Linked DNA regions of Homo sapiens. The protein of the gene in region 1 interacts with the protein of each later gene in a biochemical or structural test. Each region holds a gene or a part of one and is shown in the gene's direction. Other genes may lie near its edges. The genes, in order: HTRA3, RNF146, PPFIA1, CD226, ATP2A2, PLXNB1 and RAPGEF2.

The links.
Region 2: the proteins of HTRA3 (region 1) and RNF146 interact in a test that uses a peptide from one of them, tested with the Homo sapiens proteins (one large-scale study listed by IntAct).
Region 3: the proteins of HTRA3 (region 1) and PPFIA1 interact in a test that uses a peptide from one of them, tested with the Homo sapiens proteins (one large-scale study listed by IntAct).
Region 4: the proteins of HTRA3 (region 1) and CD226 interact in a test that uses a peptide from one of them, tested with the Homo sapiens proteins (one large-scale study listed by IntAct).
Region 5: the proteins of HTRA3 (region 1) and ATP2A2 interact in a test that uses a peptide from one of them, tested with the Homo sapiens proteins (one large-scale study listed by IntAct).
Region 6: the proteins of HTRA3 (region 1) and PLXNB1 interact in a test that uses a peptide from one of them, tested with the Homo sapiens proteins (one large-scale study listed by IntAct).
Region 7: the proteins of HTRA3 (region 1) and RAPGEF2 interact in a test that uses a peptide from one of them, tested with the Homo sapiens proteins (one large-scale study listed by IntAct).

The regions. Positions count from the first base shown.
Region 1 is NC_000004.12:8,286,754-8,290,253, forward strand, and holds part of HTRA3 (serine protease HTRA3 isoform 1 precursor), read left to right. Parts: coding exon 1-30; intron 31-3,500. UniProt on the Homo sapiens protein: Serine protease that cleaves beta-casein/CSN2 as well as several extracellular matrix (ECM) proteoglycans such as decorin/DCN, biglycan/BGN and fibronectin/FN1.
Region 2 is NC_000006.12:127,269,864-127,273,363, forward strand, and holds part of RNF146 (E3 ubiquitin-protein ligase RNF146), read left to right. Parts: intron 1-3,500. UniProt on the Homo sapiens protein: E3 ubiquitin-protein ligase that specifically binds poly-ADP-ribosylated (PARsylated) proteins and mediates their ubiquitination and subsequent degradation. May regulate many important biological processes, such as cell survival and DNA damage response.
Region 3 is NC_000011.10:70,326,190-70,329,689, forward strand, and holds part of PPFIA1 (liprin-alpha-1), read left to right. Parts: intron 1-72; coding exon 73-174; intron 175-407; coding exon 408-629; intron 630-910; exon of another isoform or gene 911-1,065; intron 1,066-3,500. UniProt on the Homo sapiens protein: May regulate the disassembly of focal adhesions. May localize receptor-like tyrosine phosphatases type 2A at specific sites on the plasma membrane, possibly regulating their interaction with the extracellular environment and their association with substrates.
Region 4 is NC_000018.10:69,853,874-69,857,373, reverse strand, and holds part of CD226 (CD226 antigen isoform a precursor), read left to right. Parts: 3' UTR 1-3,500.
Region 5 is NC_000012.12:110,284,247-110,287,746, forward strand, and holds part of ATP2A2 (sarcoplasmic/endoplasmic reticulum calcium ATPase 2), read left to right. Parts: intron 1-3,500.
Region 6 is NC_000003.12:48,427,287-48,431,284, reverse strand, and holds the start of PLXNB1 (plexin-B1 precursor), read left to right. Parts: upstream 1-1,198; 5' UTR 1,199-1,277; exon of another isoform or gene 1,278-1,532; intron 1,533-1,940; exon of another isoform or gene 1,941-3,998. UniProt on the Homo sapiens protein: Receptor for SEMA4D. Plays a role in GABAergic synapse development. Mediates SEMA4A- and SEMA4D-dependent inhibitory synapse development. Plays a role in RHOA activation and subsequent changes of the actin cytoskeleton.
Region 7 is NC_000004.12:159,354,579-159,358,078, forward strand, and holds part of RAPGEF2 (rap guanine nucleotide exchange factor 2), read left to right. Parts: intron 1-1,274; coding exon 1,275-1,580; intron 1,581-3,500. UniProt on the Homo sapiens protein: Functions as a guanine nucleotide exchange factor (GEF), which activates Rap and Ras family of small GTPases by exchanging bound GDP for free GTP in a cAMP-dependent manner.

The DNA.
Region 1 (3,500 bases):
GACATTGCCACCATCAAGATCCATCCCAAGGTGGGTGGGCGTGGGTGGAGGGGCGGAAGCACCTGGGGCTGGGCATGGTGGCCTCTTCCCAGACGCCGGAACCCAGAGGCAAGCTAGCCCCACCTTCCATCAGCCAGGGGGAGGAAACTGGGCCCAGGGAGGACTGGCAGCTGGCCCAGGGTCACGGCTTGGAAAAGACCTAGAACCCAGGTCTTTGGACTCCTTGTCCTGCGCTCCCTGAGCCGCTAGGTGCAGGGCAGAGCCAGGAAGCATGTGGCCCACAGTGGGTGGGCTGTGGTCCCATATCACACCCCACGGAGGCTCTTCACTGTCTTACCTGGGCCCACTACTGGGGATGCACCTGCCCCATGGGATGGCATCTGGGTTTGGGCGTGGAGGCCAGGGGGCTGCCGTGGGGAACACTTGGGACAGGGACCCCATCCCTCCACCTTCACGTCTGTACCTCCCACCAGCTGACCCAGAAGAGGCCTGCACTGAGGCCCCCAGAATCCTCTTCTTCCTCCACCGGCTGTTTCTGGAAGGCCTGCTCTCAGCCAGGCGCTGACTGCACTCCTCTAATTCTCACCACAGGCCTGGGAGGAAAGGGCCTGTATGAGTCTGTTTTCACACTGCTATAAAGAACTACCTGAGACTGGGTCATTTATGAAGAAAAGAGGGTTCGTTGACTCAGAGTTCTGTAGGCTGTACAGGAAGCATGACCAGGAGGCCTCAGGAGACATACAATCATGACGGAAGGCAAAGGGGAAGCAGGGACATCTTCTCATGGCAGAGCCGGAGAGAGAGAGAGTGAAGTGGGACATGCCACACATTTTAAAACCATCAGATCTCGTGAGAACTCACCACCATGAGAACAGCATGGGGGAAGTCTGCCCCCATGATCCCATCACCTCCCACCAGGCCCGTCCCCCAACACATGGGGATTACAATTTGACATGAGATTTGGGTGGCGACACAGAGCCAAACCATATCAGGGACCTCATTATCTTGGGATTTCAGACGGGGCAACTGAGGCTTGGAAGTTAGGTAACTCGTCCAAGATCACAGCGCACTGGAGCAGGGCTGGCCCGCTCAGCTAGGACCCCGGCCTCCCTCCAGCTTGTTCTTGTCTTGCCCAATGCCATGCTTATGTGACCCTGGGGACCACAGTTGAGTTACTTGCAGCTCCCCATGCCATGAGGTCACTGAGTCCCATGTCTCACACCAGCGTTGGACCCGGAGCTTCCCTTGGACTGGGAAGTTCACCTTGGCTGGTTTGAATTTGGCTTCCTCTCTTTCTGAATGAACGTTTACAGCATTTGTGATGAAATCTTTTGCAAGGGGGTTTCCTCTTGCCCCATCAAGGGAGAGGAGATTTAATGGTTCCAAGGAGTTCCCCTAATGGGGACCCTTCCCTGCTTTTCAGACTTTTCACGGTCGCGATTGAGTCTGGGGGCATCACCTCCATTTTAAAGTTAAGGAAACCCACTGAGGGGTGTGCTCACGGACAGGAGTTGGCAAATTTTCTTTTCTTTTTTTTGAAATGGGGTTTTGCCCTTGTTGCCCAGGCTGGAGTGCAATGGCGTCATCTCGGCTCACCACAACCTCCGCCTCCCGGGTTCAAGCAATTCTCCTGCCTCAGCCCCCCGAGTAGCTAGGATCACAGGCATGTGCCACCACACTGGCCAATTTTTTTGTATTTTTAGTAGAGACGGGGTTTCTCCATGTTGGTCAGGCTGGTCTTGAACTCCCAACCACAGGTGATCCACCTGCCTTGGCCTCCCAAAGTACCGGGATTACAGGCGTGAACCACCGTGCCTAGCCTTTTTTTTTTTTTTTTGAGACGGGTTCTTGCTCTGTCACCCAGGCTGGAGTGCAGTAGCAGGATCTCGGCTCACTGCAACCTCCACCTCCCAGGTTCAAGTAATTCCCCTGTCTCAGTCTCCCAAGTAGCTGTGACTATAGGTGCATGCCACCACCCTCAGCTAATTTTTGTATTTTTAGTAGAGATGGGTTTCACCATGTTGGCCAGGCTGGTCTTGAACTCCTGACCTCAGGTGATCCCCTGCCTTGGCCTCCCAAAGTGCTAGGATTACAGGAATGAGCCACTGCACCCCACCCCCAAATTTTCCTTCCTTCCTTCCGTCCGTCCTTCCTTCCTTCCTTCCTTCCTTCCTTCCTTCCTCCCTTCCTCCCCCTCTCTCTCTCTTTTTTTTTTTTTCAGGGTCTCGCTCTGTTGCCCAGGCTGGAGTGCAGTGGCACAATCACAGCTCACTGCAGCGTCAAACTCCTGGGCTTAAGGGATCTTCCCACCTTGGCCTTCCATATAGCTAGGACTACAGGCATGCACCACCATACCTGGCTAATTTTTAAATTTTTGGTAGAGATAGGGTCTCGCTGTATTGCCCAGGCTGGTCTAGAACTCGTGGGCTCAAGCAATCCTCCTGCCTCGGCCTCCCAAAGTGTTGGGATTACAGGTGTGAGCCATGGTGCCCAGCCAACAAATTTTCCATGAAGCCAAATGGTAAATATTTTATCTTTGCAAGCCCTGTGGTCTCTGTCACAACCACGCATCTCTGCTGTGGCAAAAATGCAGCCTTAGGCTGCACAGGTGGGTGTGGCTGCGTTCCAGTGAAGCTTGATTCACAAAACAGGCAATGGACAGCGTTTGGGCCTTGGGCCAGTTTGCAACCCCCGCTCGAGGACCCCTGTGGGAAGAGGAGAGCGAGACTAGGGGCAGGTCTGTCTCCCCTTCCGGCGGCTGTGGCAGAATGCTGGCAGGACTGGTGGGGTGGTATCCAGGTGGGCCTGAGCAGGACGCCCCACCAGCCACCTGTGGCAAATGGGTGCCAGCAGAGCTAGTGTGATTCATGTCCTGCAGGCCCTGGTCAGCACCCATGGCCATGAGCTGAGGTGGGAAACGCCCTCCTAGCCCCTAGGCATTAAATCGAGCCATGGGAAAGGCTCCTGACCCTCACCTGTGCCCCCTCCTTGGGTGCAGGGAGGATGGCTGACCCTCCCCAGCTCACGGCCTCACCTGTGCACCCTCCTTGGGTGCAGGGAGGATGACTGACCCTCCCCAGCTCATGGCCTCACCTGTGCGCCCTCCTTGGGTGCAGGGAGGATGGGCTGACCCTCCCCAGCTCATGGCCTCACCTGTGCGCCCTCCTTGGGTGCAGGGAGGATGGGCTGACCCTCCCCAGTTCACGGCCTCACCTGTGCACCCTCCTTGGGTGCAGGGAGGACGGGCTGACCCTCCTCAGTTCACGGCCTCCCAGAGATTTCAGACGTTATTTCTGCCTCTTCGGCCGGTCAGCAATGGAAAATGTCATCTCTCCGGGCCCTCACCTTCCAATGTGCAGGCCTGGTTCCGCCACCTGGCATTCTCTCTGCCATTGACTGAAGCTTCTTGAGCACAGAGAATAGAGGAGCGGCCTGAGTCTTTCCCACACCAGCGCCCGCCCACCAAGGGCTCCCGTAATCCTGTGCGGGGCTCCACGTCG
Region 2 (3,500 bases), on another chromosome or scaffold:
GATTTCATGTAGAACATTTACTGTTTTGTGTATTTTGAATAAATGGCAAAAATCTTATTAAACATTAGCTGTTAATAATTAGAAAAATACAGTAAGTCTTCAAATATTTATAATTGATATTTGTCTTTGTTTTTATATGTATTTATATTGATGTTATATGCTCATCTTTTTCTTTGATTAAAGATAATCGCTTGCTTGAATCTATTACCTGAAAAAAACTCTTGACTTTGATCTTGTGACTGACTTGAAAAGTGGGAGTATGAGTATTTTGAGTTGTTACAAATTATAAATGGTACAATATTACTTCATTTTTAGTTGTATTTATTTTTCACTTATTTGAATGGGTCAAGATTTAAATTCATTGATAATCCCTAAACCCCTTTGTGTATTTTTAAGTTTTACCTGTCACTGTTTTTTTCCTCCAGAATTGTTAGGGGCAAAGTATCTAATTTGGTTTTAGACTTTTTCTTTTTTTTATGTTACCTTCTTCATACATCATCATATTAAGTTTGGTGTAAAATTTACAGGTCATTCATTCCAGTAGGAATTATGTATGTTTGAGTTATTTATGTTTGGCAAATTAATTCTGGCCTGTAGTTGAAATCATACTGTTCTGTTTTACATCCCCCTATTGGTTAAAATAAAAGCATCCCTTCTCCTCCAACTTTAAAAAAACTTTGGTTTCAAATAATGTGGGAGTTTTCTGAGGGCTTCTTCACATGATTGTTATAAGTATTACATGTATGCCCTATTTTGTGCCCAGTTGAAATTATAGTTGACCATTGAACAAAGGTTTGAACCGTGTAGTTCCACTTATACAATACTTTTTTTTTCTGCCCCTGCCACCCCTGAGAGAGCAAAACCAATGTTTCTTTCTCGTCCTCCTGAAAAAGATGAAGGCCTTTATGATGATCCATTTCTACTTAATGAATGTAAACATATTTTTCTTCCTTATGATTTTTTTTTTTTTTGAGATGGAGTCTTGCTCTGTCATTAGGCTGGAGTGCAGTGGTGCGATCTTGGCTCACTGCAACCTCCACCTCCCAGATTCAAGAGATTCTCCTGCCTCAGCCTCCCAATTAGCTGGGACTACAGGTGTGCGCCACCATGCCCAGCTAATTTTTGTATTTTTAGTAGAGACGGGGTTTCACCATGTTGGCCAGGATGGTATTGATCTCTTGACCTCATGATCTTCCTGCCTCAGCTTCCCAAAGTGCTAAGATTACAGGCGTGAGCCACCGCACCTGGCCTCCTTACGATTTTTTAAATAATGTTTTCTTTTTTTTAGTTTATTGCAAGAAAACAATATATAATACAACATACAAAACATATATTAATCCACTGTTTATGTTATCAGTAAAGCTTCCAGGCAATAGTAGACTATTAGTAGTTAAGTTTTTGGAAACTCAAAAGTTTACATGGAATTTTGACTGCGCAGGGTGTAGACATTCTTAACTCCTCACATTGTTCAAGGGTCAACTGTATAAATTCTGAGAGTTAATAGGTGATGGGTCAGTTTGGCAGAATTGGGGCTACCTAAACCCATTAACTTTGATTATAACAGAATATGCAGTTTTCTTTTTTAATGTGTCTTCGGCAAAAGTCTAGGTAAATTAACATTGAATTCATTGTCTCTATTAAACAATTCCTGTAGTGACTTGTCAGTTTTGTATTTAACAAGATTAATATGCAAGACATTCTAGACCAGCATTGCCCAGTAAAGTAGCCACTAGCCACATGGAGTTATTGAGCACTTGACATGTATCCAGTCTGAATTAAGTTGTGCTGTAAGTGTAAAATACACACTGGATTTCAAAGAAGTATGCATACGCTTACCCAAGAACATAAAATATTACATTAACAATTTATATTGAAACATACTGAAGCAGTAATGTAGAAACGTTGGATTAAATAAAATATATTATTGAAATTAATTTTACCTGTTTCTTTCTATTATTATTTTTGTAGAAATGGGGGTCTCACCATCTTGCCCAGGCTGGTCTATAACTCCTAGGCTCAAGCCATCCTCCTGTGTCACTACCCACAAAGTGCTAGGATTACAGATGTGAGGCACCATGCCCTGCCTCTTTTTATTATTAATGTGGCTAATAGAAAATTTGAAATTGCATACGTGGCTTGCATCATATTTCTATTAGATAATACGTGACCTTTTCTGTGAGAGACAATACATTGTAGAAAGACATTTTTAAAGGTAAATTTGAATTTGAATCGCATCTCCCAATATTGATGGCTTTGACTTTGGGTAAGTCATTTAACTTCCTGAGCTTAGGCTTCCTCATTTGTGAAATAGGTATAGTCATATTTCACAGGGTTGTTTTGAGGATTCAGTGACATATGGATTTGGTAGTGTTTCACTAACTAATATATGTGAATCACTTGGAGATCTGGTTCTGTAGGTCTAGGGTGGCACTTAGGATTTTCATTTGTGAAGAGCTCCCAGGTAGTGCTGATAGTACTAGTTGGGAATCCCAGTTTGTTTGTATAGCTAGGATCTAGAGCATTATGTTAGTTTTAATTCATTTTCCTTCCCCAGCATTTATCCAGTTAGTCTGCACTTTGAAAAAATTATTCATGAGGATATAGAAATTGAAAAAGTCACCAAAGCATGCAAGATTTACTAAAATTATATGAACTGTGGACTCTTAGGGCTGCTGTAGGATTCCTGTTTACATCTGTTAAGTTTTTTGTCTGCTTTTATCTGGAGTCACTTTTATTGGTTGCATAAGATGGCTAAATCTCAGCCAAGAAGAACCTGGTTGTGTTGTTCTACGCAAATGTATTTTTGAAAGATAATGCATAATGAGAGGTGAAATAAAAGAATGCTCAAAGACAATAAGAGGGCAGTACAATTGACCCTTGAGCAACATGGGGTTAAGGGTGCCAACCCCTTGCACAATTGAAAATCTGAGTATAAGTTTTGACTTCCCCAAAATTTAACTACTAATAGCCTACTGTAAAGTCAGTTAACACGTTGTTTGTTATATGCATTACATACTATATTCTTACAATAAGCTAAAGGAAAATAAATTCCTAAGGAAGAAAAAATACATTTACAGTACTGCATTTACCGATACTGTGTTTATGTTACCTGTTTATAAGGTGTCTGTCTGAAATGATGGGTAACTGCAGCTGCAGACCCATCTAGGGTGTGTACCAGGTAATTTAACTTCTTGTAATGGCATGACTTCTTGGCTTCTTGGGAGCACTTCTAGCATCACTAGTGGCACTTCACATGGGTCCCATGGTGTTATTCAAGGTTTATGGTATTGTACTAAACATGATGAAAAATACACAAGAACAAGAGATTACATTTTACTCCAATACATGCAGAGATGATTAGTGTCCACAGCATTTTAAGTGGAAATTCATAATAGCAACAGGAAATTATTACAGTATGTACTACAATTAATTTTATACAGCTATGATTCATACTGCATCTTTACATTTGTTTAAATTTCTTGTACCACCTCAAGTGGCAC
Region 3 (3,500 bases), on another chromosome or scaffold:
GGAGTTTTGCTATCTTTACTTATTTCTCTTATGTAAGGTATTTTACACTCATATTCAATTTTTTGCTTTCAGCTAATGATTCTTAAAGAACAGAATAATCAGAAAAAAACTCTAACAGATGGAGTGCTGGACATAAACCATGAACAAGAAAATACACCAAGCACGAGTGGAAAGGCAAGTCTGTAGGCTTTGTCTTTATTCTGTTTGATTTCATTTGTTCACAGTATGTGTCGGGTTATGTGGAAAACAGTTGCTAAAGTACCGGCTTAGAGCTGAAGTGGTCATGAAAGTTGTGTAATCCAACAGATTGCATAAGTCAGTTTTGATTTTAGCTATTTCCTGGAAGTATTTTTATTTTATAGCTCACCAAACAAGGGTATTTAAGGATTTTTTTTTCCCCCTATCAGAGATCTTCTGATGGTTCTTTAAGCCACGAGGAAGACCTTGCTAAAGTAATTGAGCTCCAAGAAATCATAAGTAAGCAGTCAAGGGAACAGAGCCAAATGAAAGAACGCCTGGCTTCCCTTTCCAGTCATGTGACAGAACTGGAAGAGGATCTGGACACGGCTAGAAAAGATCTCATCAAATCTGAAGAAATGAACACAAAATTGCAACGAGATGTCCGTGAAGTGAGCAATAACAAAAACTACAGTCTTGTCATGAAGTTGTATGTTTGGGACGTTTTAGTTAAATGATTTTTTTTCTCTGTTTGTCTCTTACTCTCCCAATTACTTTCAACCTTTGGATTATTGTATAAGTTATATTGAAAAAGAGAGAGTGCTGTGAAACTGCCATAAGCTACCTCCCCATTTTTGTTGTGAAATCTCCTGTCCCTGAGCTCTTCAAAGTAGAGAACTAGTCCCACTGACTGACATGGCCATGAAGTGGACGCCACACTGGCCTCTCCTACCTGTGCTGCTTTAATATTCTTTAATGTCCTTGTTTGTAGATTCTTCATCTGTGCAATTTCTAGGCTGTCTTAATTTGTTCTTATGTTCAGATTGCCTTCTGTTGCACACATACTTAGCAAGCAGATATTGATACTGGCTGTGCTAGCTCACGTAGGGCAATGTGAGTATAGTCTCTTAACTGTGGGAGGGGGCGTTGCTGGCGGTCTTCTCATTTTCTGACCTGCTCCTTCAAGGAATTTGTGGCGTTGAATATTAATGGTCAAACAATCAAGAGTGGAATTTGCTTCTACATGGGTCATCAGGATCGTATAGCAAAAATATGTCACAATATACTCATTGCTGACAAATATTTCTGCCATTATAACTGTGAGAAACTATTTGATCATGAATGCCGGGCGTGGTGGCTCACGCCTGTAATCCCAGCACTTTGGGAGGCTTAGGCGGGCGGATCACGAGGTCAGGAGATCGAGACCATCCTGGCTAACACGGTGAAACCCCGTCTCTACTAAAAAATACAAAAAAATTAGCCAGGCGTGGTGGCGGGCGCCTGTAGTCCCAGCTACTCGGGAGGCTGAGGCAGGAGAATGGCGTGAGCCCAGGAGGCAGAGCTTTCAGTAAGCCGAGATCGGGACACTGCACTCCAGCCTGGGCGGCAGAGCGAGACTCCGTCTCAAAAAAAAAAAAGAGAGAAACTATTTGATCATGAAACAGTGAGGCTGAGTGCTTTCTCAGGTGCCCTTCCTGTCACTTTCTAACCTGCGCTTTGTCCCTTGTCAGGCGCCTCAACCGTTGAATGTCTGCTTTTCAGTTTGGTAGTTTGACGTTGAGTAATTTCATGTAGGAATTCACCACAGGAAGAACATTTGCATGTAGTATGTCACCTAAGGTTCTATTCTTTGGCTACAGCAGGAGATTATGTGGCAGAGATTAATATGCAGAGAATTTTGAAATTCTTTTAAGACCTATCACTTTTATTTTTTAATTTTTTATTTTAACTTTTAAGTTTGGGGTACACGTGTAGGTCTGTTACATAAGTAAACTTGTGTCCTGGCGGTTTGTTTTACAAATTATTTCATCACCCAGGTACCAAGCCTAGTTATTTTTCCTGATCCTCTTCTTCCTCCTATCCTCCACCCTCCACCCTTTGATAGGCCCCAGTGTGTGTTGTTCCCCTCTGTCTGTCCCTGTGTTCTCATCAGTTAGCTCCCACTTATAAGTGAGAACATGAGGTATTTTGTTTTTCTGTTTCTGTGTTTGCTAAAGATAATGGCCGCCAGCTCCATCCATGTCTCTGCAAAGGACATGATCTCATTCTGTTTTATGGCTGCATAGTATTCCATGGTGTATACGTACCACATTTTCTTTATGGAGTCTATCATTGATGGGCATTTAGGTTGATTCCTTGTCTTTGCTGTTGTGAATAGTGCTGCAGTGAACATACGTGTGCGTGTGTCTTTATAATACAACGATTTATATTCCTTTGGGTATATACCCCGTAATGGGATTTCTGGGTTGGTATTTCCATCTTTAGGTCTTTGAGGAATCTCCACACTGTCTTCCACGATGGTTGAACTAATTTACCCTCCCACCAAGAGCAGGAAAACATTCCTTTTTCTCCACAACCTCACCAGCATCTGTTACTGATTGACTTTTCCACAATAGCCATTCTGACTGGTGTGAGATGCTGTCTCATTGTGGTTTTGATTGGCATTTGTCTAATCGGTGATGTTGAGCTTTTTTCCCCTATCACTTGTAATATTTAGACTTTGCTAACTTTAGTCATTTTATAAATAGGGAACAACTTGAAAATAGTGAATTCTGGGGGTGGAGGACAGGTATTTCTCAAGCAAAAAGTTCTGGTCCTAGCCTTAAGTGTTTGAAACTGTATAGTAATCATCTTGTAGACTTCAGGTAGTTGCATCCAATTAAATTAAACTGGTACTTCTGTTTCCATTTGTCAATATGCTTGAGTCTTGTAATTGTATGAGAGTTCATCCAACCCTTATCCTAGAAAGTGAGACTTGTATCTCACTACTGTGTCCACTGAGAGAGGCCGCACCCTGTCCTGTGTGAGACCATTTGTAGCGTGAGGCAGACGTAGACTGCGTCTTCTTTGAGGACACTTTCACCTCCTTGAAAAATATTTAGATATTTGAGTGTATATATTTTTATAATATTATGTAGAAACAGGAAAGCTTGGTCAACTGAGTGGCCAGACATAGTATTAAGAGAGACAAGTCTTTGTTAATCGTATAGGTGAATATTTATGGTATTTGAGGTAGTTACATTTTCATTCACATTTGAGAAAATTGACATCTTCATCAATTTAATTTTGAGGACATTATTATTTATTTATTTATTTTTGAGACAGGATCTCTCTCTGTTACCCAGGCTGGAGTGCAGTGGCGCCATCATAGCTCACTGCAGCCTTGAACTGCTGGACTCGAGCAATCCTCCTGTCTCAGACTCCCAAGTACCTGGGACTACAGGGGCGTGCCACCATGCGTGGCTAATTTTTGTTTCTTTAAAATGTTTTTGGCCAGGGACACTGGCTCACGCCTGTAATCCTAACACTTTGGGAGGCCAAAG
Region 4 (3,500 bases), on another chromosome or scaffold:
GTTGAGCTGATTTATCCCACACTTTATTTTTATCGTATAATGGTCCTCAGAAGCAAATTTTGATTTTAGCTCACATAAAAAATGTACAAAGAAATGTAATGGCTCAGTAGCTTCTAGAGATAGAGATTACTCTTCTAACCTTTCTGTAATTTTGTATGTCTATTTTATAATTCTTTCAATGTCTAATGAATAGCTATCTTTTTTTGAGACGGAGTCTCGCTCTGTCGCCCAGGCTGGAGTGCAGTGGTGCGACCTCGGCTCACCGCAAGCTGCGTCTTCCAGGTTCACGCCATTCTCCTGCCTCAGCCTCCCGAGTAGCTGGGACTTCAGGCGCCCACCACCATGCCCAGCTAATTTTTTTGTATTTTTAGTAGAGACGGGGTTTCACCGTGTTAGCCAGGGTGGTCTCGATCTCCTGACCTCGTGATCCGCCCGCCTCGGCCTCCCAACGTGCTGGGATTACAGGAGTGAGCCACCGCGCCCGGCCTCCTTAGTTTCTTAAGGTGGAAGCCTAGATTATTGATTTTATATGTTGTTTTCTTTTCCAATAGTGGCACTTAATGCTATAAATTTCACTTTGTTCCACAAGTTTTGGTAAGCTCTATTTTTATTTTCATTTAGTCCAAAATATTTTAAAATTTCTTTTGATATTTCTTCTTTGAGCCATGAATTATTTACAATGTGTTGTTTAATCTCTATATATTTTGGGATTTTTCTACTTTATATCTCTTACAGATTTCTAACTTAATTTCATCATGTTTTAAAAACATTCTTTGTATAATTTCTATTCTTTTAAATTTTTCAGGTGTATTTTATGGCCCAGAATATGGTCTATCTTGTAGAATGTTTCATGTGATCTTAAGAAGAATGTTCATTCTGCTGTTGAGTGTAATATTCTACAAATGTCCATTAGATTAAACTGATTGATACCACCGTTCAGATTATCTATATCCTTTCTGATTTTCCCTCTTCTTGATCTATCACATACTGACAGATCAAGTGATCAAGTCTCGTTAAAGACTGCAAGTAAAATAGTGGATTTTTCTATTTCTCCTTGCAGTTTTGTTAGTTTTTGTCTCATGTATCTTGATACTCTTGTTAGTACATATACTTTCAGAATCGTTAGGTTTTCTTGGAGAATTGACCCCTTTACCACATGTAATGTCCCTTTTATTCTTGATAATCTTTCTTGTTCTGTCTGCTTTTTCTGATATTAACATAACTTTCAGTTTTTTAAAAAATTAACATTAGCATCTCACATCTTTATCCTTTTAATTTTAAATTATCTAAATATTTATATTTAATGTGCCTTTCTTATAGACAATGTATAGTTGCGTCTATTTGTAATTTCCCCACTTTTCTTACTTAAAAATGTTGTAGATATATAGGAGTTGTATATATTTGGGGGGTACATGTGATGTTTTGATACCTGTATACAATATGTAATGATCATATTGGGTAATCGTGATATCTGTCACCTCTAACATTCATCTTTTTTGTGTGTTTAAACCCACCACTTCTAATTGGTACATTTAGATTATTCAAATTTAAGTGATTATTGATATAGTTGGATTAATATCTACTATGTTTGTAACTTTTCTATCCTTGCACTCGTTCTTTCTTTTTTATCCTCCTTTTTCTGTGTTCTCTGATTTTAACTGGGGTTTTTACATGATTTAATTTTCTCTCGTGGCATATCTTTCATTGATCAACCTAGGTTTTTCTCCTTTTCCCCTCTTTTTTTTGGTATTTATTCTATTTAGTGTTATCTGAGCTACCTGAGTTGGTGTCTATCACTAATTTTGGCAAGTTCCCAGACGTTATTACTTCTAACATTCTTTTGCTCCATTCTTTCTTCTTCTTCAATTATTCCATAGTCTTGAATATTCTGGGTTTTTCCCACTCTTTGAATTTTAGTTTGAAAAGTTTCTATTGGCCTAGCTTCAAAGTCATTCATTCTTCCTTCGGGGTTCCAAGTCAACTGATAATTGCATCAAAGATATCCTTCCTTTCTATTACTATGTTTTTTATTGCTACCATTTCTTTTTTATTCCTTCTTAGTGTTTCCATCTTTCTTCTTACATTATCCATCTGTTGTCTATTTTTTTCATGAGAGCTCTTAACATATTAATGATAAGTTCCATGTCTGATAATTCTGACACGTGTCATGTCTCTATCTGGTTCCAATGATTGCTTTATCTCTTCAGACCATGACTTTTCTTGCCTTTTGACGTTCTTTGACATTTTTTTTGAATTTTTTGTTGCAAGCCAGATCTGGTGTGTTATGTAATAGGAACAGGTAAATAAGTCTTTAGCTTGCAGACTTATCTTAATCTGACTAACTATTAGACTGTGTTTAAAGTCTGTTATAACCATAGGTGCTAAATTTCTTCAAATTCCTCTAGTGTCTTTGTTTTGTTTGTTCATGTGTTTTTCCCCTTCTTGAGTTCAGGCTTCCCTAAGTGCTCCTCTTCAGAGAGACTTTCTGTCTTTCAGCTCTTTCCTCTGCAATTCACTGTTACTATACTGGAGCCCTGTTGGTGTAGTACTAAGCTGTGGGAAAGGAGAGTGCTCTGTAATCTTACAGTGAAATCTCAGTCTTTTAGTGGGTCTGTGTCTGGGACATTCACAGAGCTTCTCCAGTGGTATTGCTTCCTCATCCTCAACTCTCTTTCCTGGCTGCAGCATTCCCAATGTATTTCTTTGAAGGCCTGCCCCCTGTTGACTGTTATTTTCCCTCTTTCCTTAAGTGGGACAGGGAGACTTCAGGGGCTGGGATGAGGTTTGGGAATTGTGCTTGGCAGAGTCCTTTCCATCTTTGTTACCAAGAAGGTTCATGGCTTATTTCTCAATGGATGTCCCTCTCTATCTGTTGCCAGAGCCACGAGGAAATTTTTCTTGGATCCTCATAATGAGAACCTTGGAGTTTCCTACTGGAAAAGCCCTTGAATGTGTGGAGTGCCTCAAGAGCACAGCCCCCATGGGTTTCTTGCTCACACCAGTCCACAAACAGATGCCAGCAATTCACCCAACTTACCATATAAAGGCTCATACTAGTTTATGGCTCCAGTGCTTTGACTCCAGATAAATGGCTATTGGTTGCGTATCTCTCTGGATGTATCTGTATCTCCAGATTTTGGGGTGGCAGTTTGCTCAGGACCTTGGTTCTCTAATAGGTCTAATAAGAAAAGTCATTGATTTTCAGCTTTCCAACTTTCCAGCTTTGTCTTGTTATAAGCATGGCAGCAACATCTTCCATGCCTTAACATGATGACACTAAAGGCAGAAGTCGATCTCCATGTATAAACATTTTAACACATATGTTTTTTGTTATCGTGGTTTCTGACCTGTCTCTTTGCCCTGACTTTCTGATACTGCACTAGGGTTCCTGTTGCTGGACTCCATTCCATATGACTTGCTCTCGTCTAGGCTGCTCTTTGGCTCATCTTTATAAATCATGATCCAAAATGAAGCACATATTTATTTTTTAAATAAATATG
Region 5 (3,500 bases), on another chromosome or scaffold:
TTATCAATACATTGTCATGGGGCAAAATAAATGATACATTTGGAGCTAGTGTAAGATTTGTATTTAACTGGGTACATAATAGCGTTGGCAGTTAAATAATGGGGTCCGATAAGGTCATTGGGAACTTCTTAAAAATTAATCAGCTGACTACAAGCCAGAAGCAAAATACATTTTTACTGAATTCTCTGTGTTACAAGTTGAAGCAGTGTGGGAAACCATGCCACTGGTGTTACTATTGGGGTTGCACTGGGTCTGTTTTTTGAGTGGCCAGTTTGAGTGACTTTATATTAGCATTTTAAATTAATGATGTGTGTGGGTTTTGTTTGTTCATTTTTTACTTTGAAGTAATTAGAGGCTTATAGTTTGTAAGCATTTCAAGCAGGTTTTTAAATAAATGCTTTAATTTTTTTTATAAGATAGGACCTTGGCTTTGTGGAGCATTATAGAGCTATATTTTGGAGTTGAAATTTGAGCTCCTTTTTGGTAACTGTGGAGTTACTGCTCAGGAAATGAACTGTGTTACATTTTTATTTTATGAGTTGGTAAATAGCAAAAGAATAAGTGTTTAGGGAGTACTTCTATAGAATTAATTTGCTTTGGTTTGTTTGATCAAGGAATTGCAGATATAAGACCTGTTGTGTTGATTTTCTTCATGTGGGGTTGGGTACTGCTGCTGCATTGTCTTTAGTGTTTCATTCCTCCTGTCTGTATCTTTTAAAAGAAAGAGCACTGACTCTCTTTTTGTGTCAGTTTATTCCTATTGATGTAACAGAAAAAACATGGTAGAATATTCAGGTTTTTTTGGAGAAGTGACTAGGCGATTCTTATATACATCATGCGTCATCAAGTCATGCTTAAATTAAAAAGAATATTAGTGACTTACTTCAAATATCAAACTAAGTAGTAAACTGTTAACTATAGTTAATATTTTGCTGTGGCATAGAATAGGAAGCTATGCTTGTGACCTGTAGGGATCTAGTTTAATTTGTAATATTGGCCAAAGTGTTTTTTTGAAACGGTCACTTGGATTGAAAGAAATAAGCTTCATCTTCCAGTGCATATGAACATTAGAAATTGCTTAATTTGACACTGAAGACCCCCCCTCTATCATTCACTTTATCTTTTCATTCTCTTCTTGATTACCAACTTTGTTCTAAATGTAACACATCGTATGGTTGCTTAACTGATGCCTGCCCTTTCTTCTCTTTTCCTGCTTTGTTAAGATATTTATTGAGCACCTGTCACAGACACTGGGGATACAGTAGTGAATAAAACAGACAGAGACCCTTACCTGGAGGATAATACTGCTGAGAAAAATAAAGCAAGGGGGTTTGGATATCAGAGTATGTGAAAGGGGGAACAGTTTTCAAATTGGGTGGTCCGGAAAGTTCTTGAGGAAGGTGACATTTGCGAAAAGATCTGAAGGAGGTGGGCATTAGGGCCATGTTGGTCTCCCATCTGTCTAAATCATAAAGTCATAATTAATATGGTAATAATTTGCATAGGTTTCTCTACCTTCCACCGTCGTTTCCCATGTCAGCTACTTAGATTGACCCTAAAATGCTAATAAAACTTTCTAGACTGTGGTACTTCTCAACCTTTAGGTTACATTTGACCATTTGCATGTGTGTGTCTCTTTTCTTCCTACTAGACCCCCTTGAGTTAGTGCTTTTTTTTTTTTTTTTTTTTAAATGTAGATGGAGTCTCACTCTTGTTGCCCGGGCTGGAGCGCAGTGGTGCAATCTCGGCTCACTGCAACCTCCACCTCCTGGGTTCAAGTGATTCTCCTGCCTCAGCCTCCTGAGTAGCTGGGATTACAGATGTCCACCACCACGCCCGGCTAATTTTTGTATTTTTAGTAGAGATGGGGTTTACCTTTGTTGGCCAGGCTGGTCTCGAACTCCTGACCTCAGGTTATCACCTGCCTCAGCCTCCCAAAGTGCTGGGATTACAGGCATGAACCACTGCGCCTGGCCTAAGTTAGTGCTTTTGATGTCACAAAAACTTGGGTGAGTTTGTTTCAGTAGAATTTTCTGAAAATACATGAGATCTTTTTACTGTAGTTTCTCAGAAGAGAATACTCAAAGCATTTGATACTGGATTTGTAGTGATTTTAATTTTCTTCTGTATCTTTTAATTTTTGATTTTAAAAATGGGATAAGAAGGGCAAATTACTGATTGGTTTAACTAGTTTATTCAGAGCTTTTCTTAAAATAATGACTTGAAAGGTGGATTTAATAGAGTACTTTTTAAAAAGATTGTTTTCTCATGCCTGAAAGCATTGAATGTTTTTACATAGCTTTATATCTGGATCAGAAGGGAACGAGTTCTAATTCATGCTTTTTTTTCCGTTTTATTAATGACTGAAAGTCCTCCCCCAGAAATTATCGTAACGTTTATTGGTAATTCTCTGTATCATTCTCGAAATGTTTAATTTCCATTTCCTCTTTATTTAAAAAAAAAAAAAAACTTGATGTAAATTTCTTCATTTATTGAGCAATTGTTTGAGGGCCCAAAGGCACAGTGCAAGTTTCTGAGAATACTAGGAGCAAAATGTGCTTATGATCTTTTTAAGCACTTTTTTCTTTCGTTTTCTTTTTATGATACTAAGAGCTCTTCCTATTATCACAGTGTATAGATATCTGAGTCACAATATCATGACTGTCTCCCAGTTTACAGCAGAACGTGCTTTTTACCTTGGATTAAAATTTGCTTTATTTGGCCGGGTGCAGTGAGTGGCTCATGCCTGTAATCCCAGCACTTTGAGAGGCCGAGGTGGGTGGATCATTTGAGGTCAGGAGTTCGAGACCAGCCTGGCCAACATGGTGAAACCCCACCTGTACTAAAAATACAAAAATTAGCCAGGCGTGGTGGTGGGTCCCTGTAATCCCAGCTACTCAGGAGGCTGAGGCAGGAGAATCGCTTGAACCCGGGAGGCGGATGTTGCAGTGAGCCGAGATTGCGCCACTGCACTCCAGCCTGAGTGACAAAGTGAGACTCCGTCTCAAAAAAAAATTTTTTTTTTGCTTTAGTATACTTATCAGAAGTATAATGCAGTACAGAGTGTTGTACAGTATTTCAGTGCTGTACAGAGATTAATCTTGTGGATAATAATTGGGAGATACTCTATCCCTACTCTATTTTTAACAGTTTAATGTAGTTGAGTGTTCATTAGCAAGTGGTTACTTTGAATAATACTGGCACATTTGAAGCATTGAACTTGTTTGATAATGTATGTCCCAGAAGACAGGTATTATTGTATTTAGCACAAAGCAAAGGGAAGAAGAAACACTGTTTATGTCCAAAACTATGGGGCAGTGGTCTTCTCTTTTACTTTTCTTTGCTGCTGTTCATGAAGCTTGTTACCTTTTCGCTGTCTTTTTTTTGAGACGGAGTCCTGCTCTGTCGCCCAGATTGGAGTGCAGTGGTGCGATCTTGGCTCACTGCAACCTCCACCTCCCAGCTTCAAGTGATTCTCCTGCCTCAGCCTCCCGAGTAGC
Region 6 (3,998 bases), on another chromosome or scaffold:
GTGTTCAGTCTTGGGCAGTGAGCATGGCCCAAATGCCCCCCACCCCAGGTTCTCAGCACCTGGTCCCTCAGTCAATCTATCCTTGGCGAGTAATGGCTCCCCAGAATGGCATGGGATGGAAAGACCCCTGTGCTTAGAGTGTTCACATTCCTTGTAGGGCAGGAGGTAGCGTATCTGTGTACAGATGAAAGGGGTTGTGGGGTTTGGAAGTCCCAGTTTCCTCTGGGGTGAGATAGGTCCTGAAGTGTGTGCTTGGATGAATGGATTTGGGGAGGGAGGGATTCTGTGCATGTGGAGGGGGCTGCTACAAGCTACATAGGCAGGAAAGCCAAAGTGGGTGAGGGACTGGGGCAGACTGTCCTGGCTGGGGTGGTGATGGGTGTGGGGGAGTTGTGCAGAATGATGTCACAGGCCCGGGGTGCCAGGTTGGCAGTCTGAGGTCAGAGGCTAAGGGTGAGGGATCCAGGGAGGGATTGCTATGCTGGTGCAGACAAGGTGCTAAGCACCTGGACTCAGGTGCTGGAAGTGGGAGTGGAGGAAAAGGGGTGACCTGACAGGAGACCCTTGATAGCTGGTGGGAGGTGGGAAGAGGGTGTCTCTAGCTCTAGGGCAGTAGCCAGTGTGGATGACCTGAACCTCCTGATTGAGGCTCCCCTAGCCTGTGGAGGCCTTGGAGGCTTTCAGATGATGCCTGTGACGTTTTTGCCTCCCAGGAAGCTGTGCCAATGGCTTTGAGCCAAAGTCCTCCAAAAGTCCTAATAGGATGGGCCAGGTTCTGGTCCTGAGTTAGCCGTGGGCATGCCAGGGTGTGAAGGGCCCTGCACAGGGTACAAATGGTCCCCAGGAGAGAACCTTTCTGCCAGCGTTTCCTCCCGCAGAAGGCCCAGGTGTTTGCCAGTGAGGGAGCCCAGACTTGCCCAACGCTTCTCAGCTTGGGGTGGGTCCAGGTCTGGGTCCTGGGCTGGGAAGAAAGGAAGGAAGTGAGCCCTTGCTTGTGCGCCTCTGCAGCCCAGGTTCCCTGCCTTCACAGCCCCGCTAGAGGTGGGATCACCCCCACTTACTGGTGAGCAAATAGGCTGGGGGGGGTTGGTGTCAGGTTACATGGTTTAGTTGATGGCGCAAGCCCAGGTCCAAAGCCCATGCTCTTCTCAAACAGCCAGAGGTGGGGGCCGGAAGGAGGGATTGGCTGTTGGGGAGTAGTGGGAGCAGGGGCGGTGAGCAGGGGCGGTGGGCAGGGCCAGGTGCGCAGGGGAGAAACAAGGCGCCTTGGAGTTCAGGTAAAGAAAGTTGGGGAGGATGACCACCGGAGCCGGGTAAGGAAGGGAAAGGGAGCTCCGGGCGCGGGGCGAGGCCGGGCGCTGGCAGAAGAACGGGTCGGGCTGGTGAGGGACTCGGGTGCTACCCGGCTCTGGACGGGCGGGAAGAGGCCGGGACGCTGTTCCACCAGCACCTGCGGGTGCGGAGCGCGACCCCCCGCCTCGGCTCCTGGCAACCAGGAAAGTTCCCAGTTCCGGTTCCAAGGAGGCGAGCAGGTGAGGCCGACGGGGCGGGGCGGCTCTGGCTCCCGGGGTTCACTCCTCACCCCTCCGGGCGACCCGCGTTGCCATGGCGACCGCCGCGGTGCAGCCCGCCCCCGCCCTCCCCCGTGCGGGAGGGGTCGGGTCCCCAGCCCTCGGCCGATGCGGAGCCCGCGGGGCTGGAATGCGGGGTCCCGGGCGGTTCGGGGCCGCGCGCCCGGCTCTCCGGGCTGCTTCCGGCCTGGCCCGGGCGGCGGGCGGGGGGAGGGCAGCCCGGCAGGCGAGGGGGAAGGAGCGGAGACGAGCCCGGCCGACGCGGCTTTGTCTCCTTTGTTCCCGGCGGTGGCAGCGCCGCGCGGGAGGGGCGGGCAGCGGGCGCAGTTTTCCGCCCCTCGGTCTCCGGGTAACAGCTGCGGCTCCGCCAGACCCGGGGAGAGGCCGCTGCGCGCGGAGCCCGAGCCCGGAGCGGCCGACGCCCGCCTCGGCGCGCACATCCCGCGGGGCCCGGCCGGGTGGTGAGTGCGGGGCTCGGGGCCAGGGCGGCGAGGAACGGGGCTCCCGAGGTGGAACGGGCCGGGGCCCCGATCCCGCCGGGCAGGGGCGGCCTGGGTGAGTGGTGGGCGGCTTTGGTTTTGAGAGTTGGGACCACACTTCTCCGCGCGAAGGGAAACTCTGGCGACTCCGCCTGGAACGCGATTGGGAGACTGAGGAGGTGGAGCTGCTCCTCCGCGCCCCCTCCTCGCCGTCGCCGCCGGGGACCGGCCGGCCCCTTCCCCGCCCTCCCAGGGCCAGTGATGGGGTCCTCGCCTCGGGGTCTGGGGGTTGGGGAGGGTCAAGGACGAGCCGAGTGGGGAGGTCGGGGCTTCCCCTCAGTAGTAACAGCCCTTTCTGGCTGCTCCCGGTGGGACTGACAAAGGCGGACCTCGAGCCTCCTGACCCCCGGGCGGGTGGGGGGGACCCTCCTCTCCACACACAGACATATTAAGTGGGTGATCGATGAGCGCCTTGGGTCATCGCAGGTGCCTGGTAAATGGTGGATCTCCCCACCCCTCCTCAACACACAGAAAACAGGGCGGGCAGCGGGCACCACTGCACTGTCAATGAATAACTCACCTCTGTAGTGAACCCTGGGAGCTGAGCAGGAGGGTGAAACGGGAAGGCCGGTTTCCCACTAACTGGCAGGCAAGGCAAATGTGGGCTGTCCTATGGCCCCTCTGCAGGTGCGGAATGGCGGGGTTTGTGAGCCCCTTTTGTTGTCGAGGACAGCTCCACGGGGGTCCGGGAGGTGCTTGCTCTACAGACAGAAGTTGGGCAGTCTTGCGCCCCCTGAAAAGGTTCAGAGTAGGGTGGCCCCAGAAGAGACTCCAGGGCATGTGTGGGGGAGCACTGGGCACAGGCAGAGTTAGGCTTTGGCTGTGAGTCTGAGCAGGGCCTCAGATATTGGGAATGGGCAGGAGATCCTGGCTGTGTAAGTTGGGGATGTGAGGTCTGGTTCTAGATCAGCCTTTTCAGTCTGCCCTGGCCTGGTCATTAATAAAAGTGGGGCCAATGTGTTCCCTTTGAGAGACCAAGTGGCTTGGAGGGATTGTGGGCCCCCTATCTCCCCTACTTGTTGGGTTTTCTTGGGTGTGAAATGGGGGTTCGTTCACCATACAGGGAGCATCTGGTCTGTGCTGAAGTCTGTGTAAGTTGCTGGGGCCTCTGAATCAGAAGCCATACTCCCTGCCTTCAAGGAGCTTCAAGTCCAGAGTAGGAGGGTGGAACAGGGAGAAAGGTGACCCTGGTTGGCATCACTAATGCCAGGCACACACTGTTTCATGTTTACTGGTCAGAGCAATCCTGCCTCCCATTGTACAACTAGGAAATCTGAGGCTCGGAAAGCCTGAGGCAGAGCGGCCGTGCCTGTCAGGGTGGTGGCTAGGTGTGTCCATTCTGTCCACCGCATGCAGCGGCCTCCTCAGGAGCCTGGGAGGACAGGGGAGGCTCCCCAGGGAGAGGATGGTTGGTGTAGGAGTTAATGGGATAGCGAGGGAGTGGGCATTCCAGGCAGCGGCAAGAGCCTGTGCAGCGGTTGGAGGAGCCAAGCAGCCTGCAGTTCAGGCTGGCAGGAACGAAGGGCATGTGTGGGGGAGCACTGGCATGGATCGGGTGGGAGAGGTGTGGACTGGAGGGGTAGGCCTTTATCCCTCCCGCTCTGGGGTGCCCCAGAGGCTCTTGGGGGAGGGGTGTACTCAATTCTGCTCAAGGAAAGTCCTGAGAAGTTGGGAGTTGGGAGGCTAGATTGGAGGGGCTGGGAGCTGCTCAGTGGCCTGTGGCAGAGATTAAGTGAAATCCATGTGCCTGAAATGGAGGAGAAAAAGTCACTGCTCTTCTTTCTGTCCTCCTTCCGACACCCATGGTATGTGTGGAGGGGCAAGGGGTGCTAGGTCCTGATTCACAGGGAGACTGCTGGCAGAAGCCTGACCACTTTCCCTGGAGTGG
Region 7 (3,500 bases), about 150 Mb from region 1:
ACGGGTTTAGGAGTCAGGCGGACTGGGGATTGAATCCCTGTTTTGCCACTTTATTAGTTTTGTGACATTGGGTAAAATACAAAACAGTGCCTGTTTCCTCATCTGTAAAATGAGCTTCATAATTTCTACTTAATGGAGTTAGTGTGAGGATTCAAGGAAATTTATGCAAAGTATTTAGAACAGTGCCCAGATAGTAGATTCACTAAGTACATGAAAGCTATTGCTGCTGCTGTTCCTGTTAGAAGAGGCTCTCATGCGCCCTCAGTCCTGTTGAGATGTGTTTTCTATGGCACAATTAACATCTATATAGACGAAGTGTAGGAACAGATGATAGGTTGTAGAGTGAGAAATTCTGGAGTATAATCATTACGGACATTACTTTTATTAGTAGGAAAATTGTAGTTATTTAGCCATGTAAATAGTCATGGGTAGATTTCAAGTTTAATATCCTTTTACAATGAATAAGGAGAAAACAGTTAATAAATATTCTTAGGTTGGACTTTTTCAAGTGCTTACAACTAATACTCAGAATTTTTATTGCAAAGGAAGGAAGAATGATTTTTAGTTCCTAACAATTGAGTTTTAAAAGTTCAAGAAAATGAAACTTTAGTTTTACTGGCCTATACAGGTTTCATATTCTAGGTCATGAGCATCAATAAAGGGATTTTAAGAAAAATAGACACCTTATAGTAATAGTTTTAGAATTTTTAAATTGGTATCCTTTGTGCGACTTTTCCAAATTTATTTTAATTCACTGTTTCTGTAAGTGAAGTCTTGAGACCCGAGAGTGATGTAGAATTGCTTCTCTGCCTGGTAAAGATAAATGCCCAGAAAGAGGGCAGATCCGGCAGGCAGAGAGGAAAAAGGGAACTTGTACCAAGCACAAACAGGTTCTAGGCATAGTGCTGTGTACTTAGGTTCTTCCTGTGCTTCAGTCTTTCCAATAAATCCAGGGGTTAGGTTTTAATCTTACTATTTTATAGTTACAGACCATTTTAAATGGACAAGCAGCCCATTTAAAGATAAAAGTACTTAGATGGACTAGCAGCTTCTCTCACCAATTATTTCACCACACAAAGATAACATCATTGTGAAATTTGGTTTAGTTAACATGCATTCCCTGGCCTGCCTCACACCGCACCTCTAACCGATACCATGCAAATGCACATCTGCTGCTACACTGTGGATGCTGTTTTAGTAATTATTTTTATATTTTTAATAAACTTTTGTGGCATGAACTAGTTTTTAATGCTGGTGCATTGTTTCTACTCTAGCACGAAAGGAGGGCAGGTATCGAGAGCCCCCGCCCACCCCTCCCGGCTACATTGGAATTCCCATTACTGACTTTCCAGAAGGGCACTCCCATCCAGCCAGGAAACCGCCGGACTACAACGTGGCCCTTCAGAGATCGCGGATGGTCGCACGATCCTCCGACACAGCTGGGCCTTCATCCGTACAGCAGCCACATGGGCATCCCACCAGCAGCAGGCCTGTGAACAAACCTCAGTGGCATAAACCGAACGAGTCTGACCCGCGCCTCGCCCCCTATCAGTCCCAAGGGTTTTCCACCGAGGAGGATGGTATATGCACATAAATATTCCTAAAACCTCCAAGTTAGATGTGTTCACTTGTGCTGCTTCCCAAGGCATTTCTGTTCTCTTAACACTGCAGTCAGCTATGTCTAACCATATACTACACAAAGTACACTACATTCAGAGTTCCAAATTTAGGGTTACAGCTGTTGACTGCTTTCTTTTGTGTGTGTGTGTGTGTTTCCTTAAATGGCTTTAAAAATGCCAAAGATTATGGAGGGAGTCACTTAAAATACAGTGTGTATATAACTGGTTTTCTTCTCCAATTCTCACTAAAATTTGATTGCTTTCTGTGTGTCTGTGTATGTGTGTTTCCCTAAATGGCTTAAAAAATCCCAAAGATTATGGAGGGAGTCACTTAAAATACAGTGTTTATATGACTTGATTTCTTTTCTAATTCTCGTTAAAATTGAAGTACTTCTGTGACCCTATTTTAAGAAAAAGAATAGGCCAGGTGCGATGGCTTACACCTGTAATCCCAGCACTTTGGGAGGCTGAGGAGGGCAGATTACTTGAGCTCAGGAGTTTGAGACCAGCCTGGCCAAAGTAGTGAAACCCTGTCTCTACTAAAAATACAAAAATTAGCCGGGTATGGTGGCAGGCACCTGTAATCCCAGCTGCTCGGGAGGCTGAGGCAGGAGAACCACTTGAGCCCGGAAGGCAGAGGTTGCAGTGAGCCAACAACATGTCACTGCACTCCAGCCTGGGTGACAGAGTGAGACTCTGTCTCAAAAAAAGGAAAAGAAAATGAAAATTTCACAAGTTTGTGCTGTTGTCAAGAATTTTAGAAGCATGTAGGATTCTCAAAGGTGGATGGTTAAAGTTTTCTGTGGAAACATTATATTTGCGCTTTTAATGAATTGGGACTCATTTGGAAATGAAAGTCTGATAAAGAAAGATACATTATCAGCCAGCCTGATGGCTCATGCCTGTAATCCCAGCACTTTGGGAGGCTGAGGTGGGAGGATTGCTTGAGGCCAGGAGTTCGAGACAAGCCTGGGCAACATAGTGAGACCTGTCTCCATAAAAATATTTTTCAAATGACCCAGGCGTGGTGGCGTGTGCCAATAGTCCTAGCTACTATGGAGGCTGAAGTGGAAGGATCACTTGAGCCCAGGAGTTCAGGGCTGTGGTGACCCATGATTGTGCCACTGCACCGTAGCCTAGGTAGCAGAGCAAGACCCGGTCTCTAAAAGAAAGAGAGAGAGAAGGGGAGGGAGAAAGGGAAGGAAGGAAGGAACCCACATTCTTTATAACTCTTTGTGCGTTCTTTCTACAAATCTATCTGACCATGCTGAATTGAGAATGAGGAAGGAGAACATGGCCTCCCATCTTCTTTAAAGTTTTCAGTTTAACATGTTTGATTACACAATCATAGAAAAAAGCAACACGTGACTGGGAGATTGGGAGGCCGAGGCAGGAGAATCGCTTGAGCCCGGGAGGCGGAGGTTGCAGTGAGCCGAGAACACTGCACTGTGGATGGCAAACCCACACCCTGTCTCAAAAAAGTTAAATTAAATTAAATAAATAGAAAAACATTACAAATGAAAATTACTTAAAATCCTGTCACTTGCAGATAGCCACTATTAAAATGTTGTTATATATTCTAGACTTTTTATGTGTATCTGATCGTATATTTTTTTTAAATGGCACATGCTATTTTACAACTTTTTAAAATGAATTTAACAACTTTCTGAACAAAAATATATAATGCATATCTTTTTAATATTGTGTGTATATATGTAAAGATATGTATTGCATACATTTTAACCTTTTTGTTGTTCGTCATTGTTTAGGAAAAAAAGACAAGGATTCTAAGTGAGCTATACTAAAAAGAATAACTATGATAGTTTTATTTAGCACATCAGTGAATATATTCTCTATAGCACAAGAAATTACTTGCTTGCT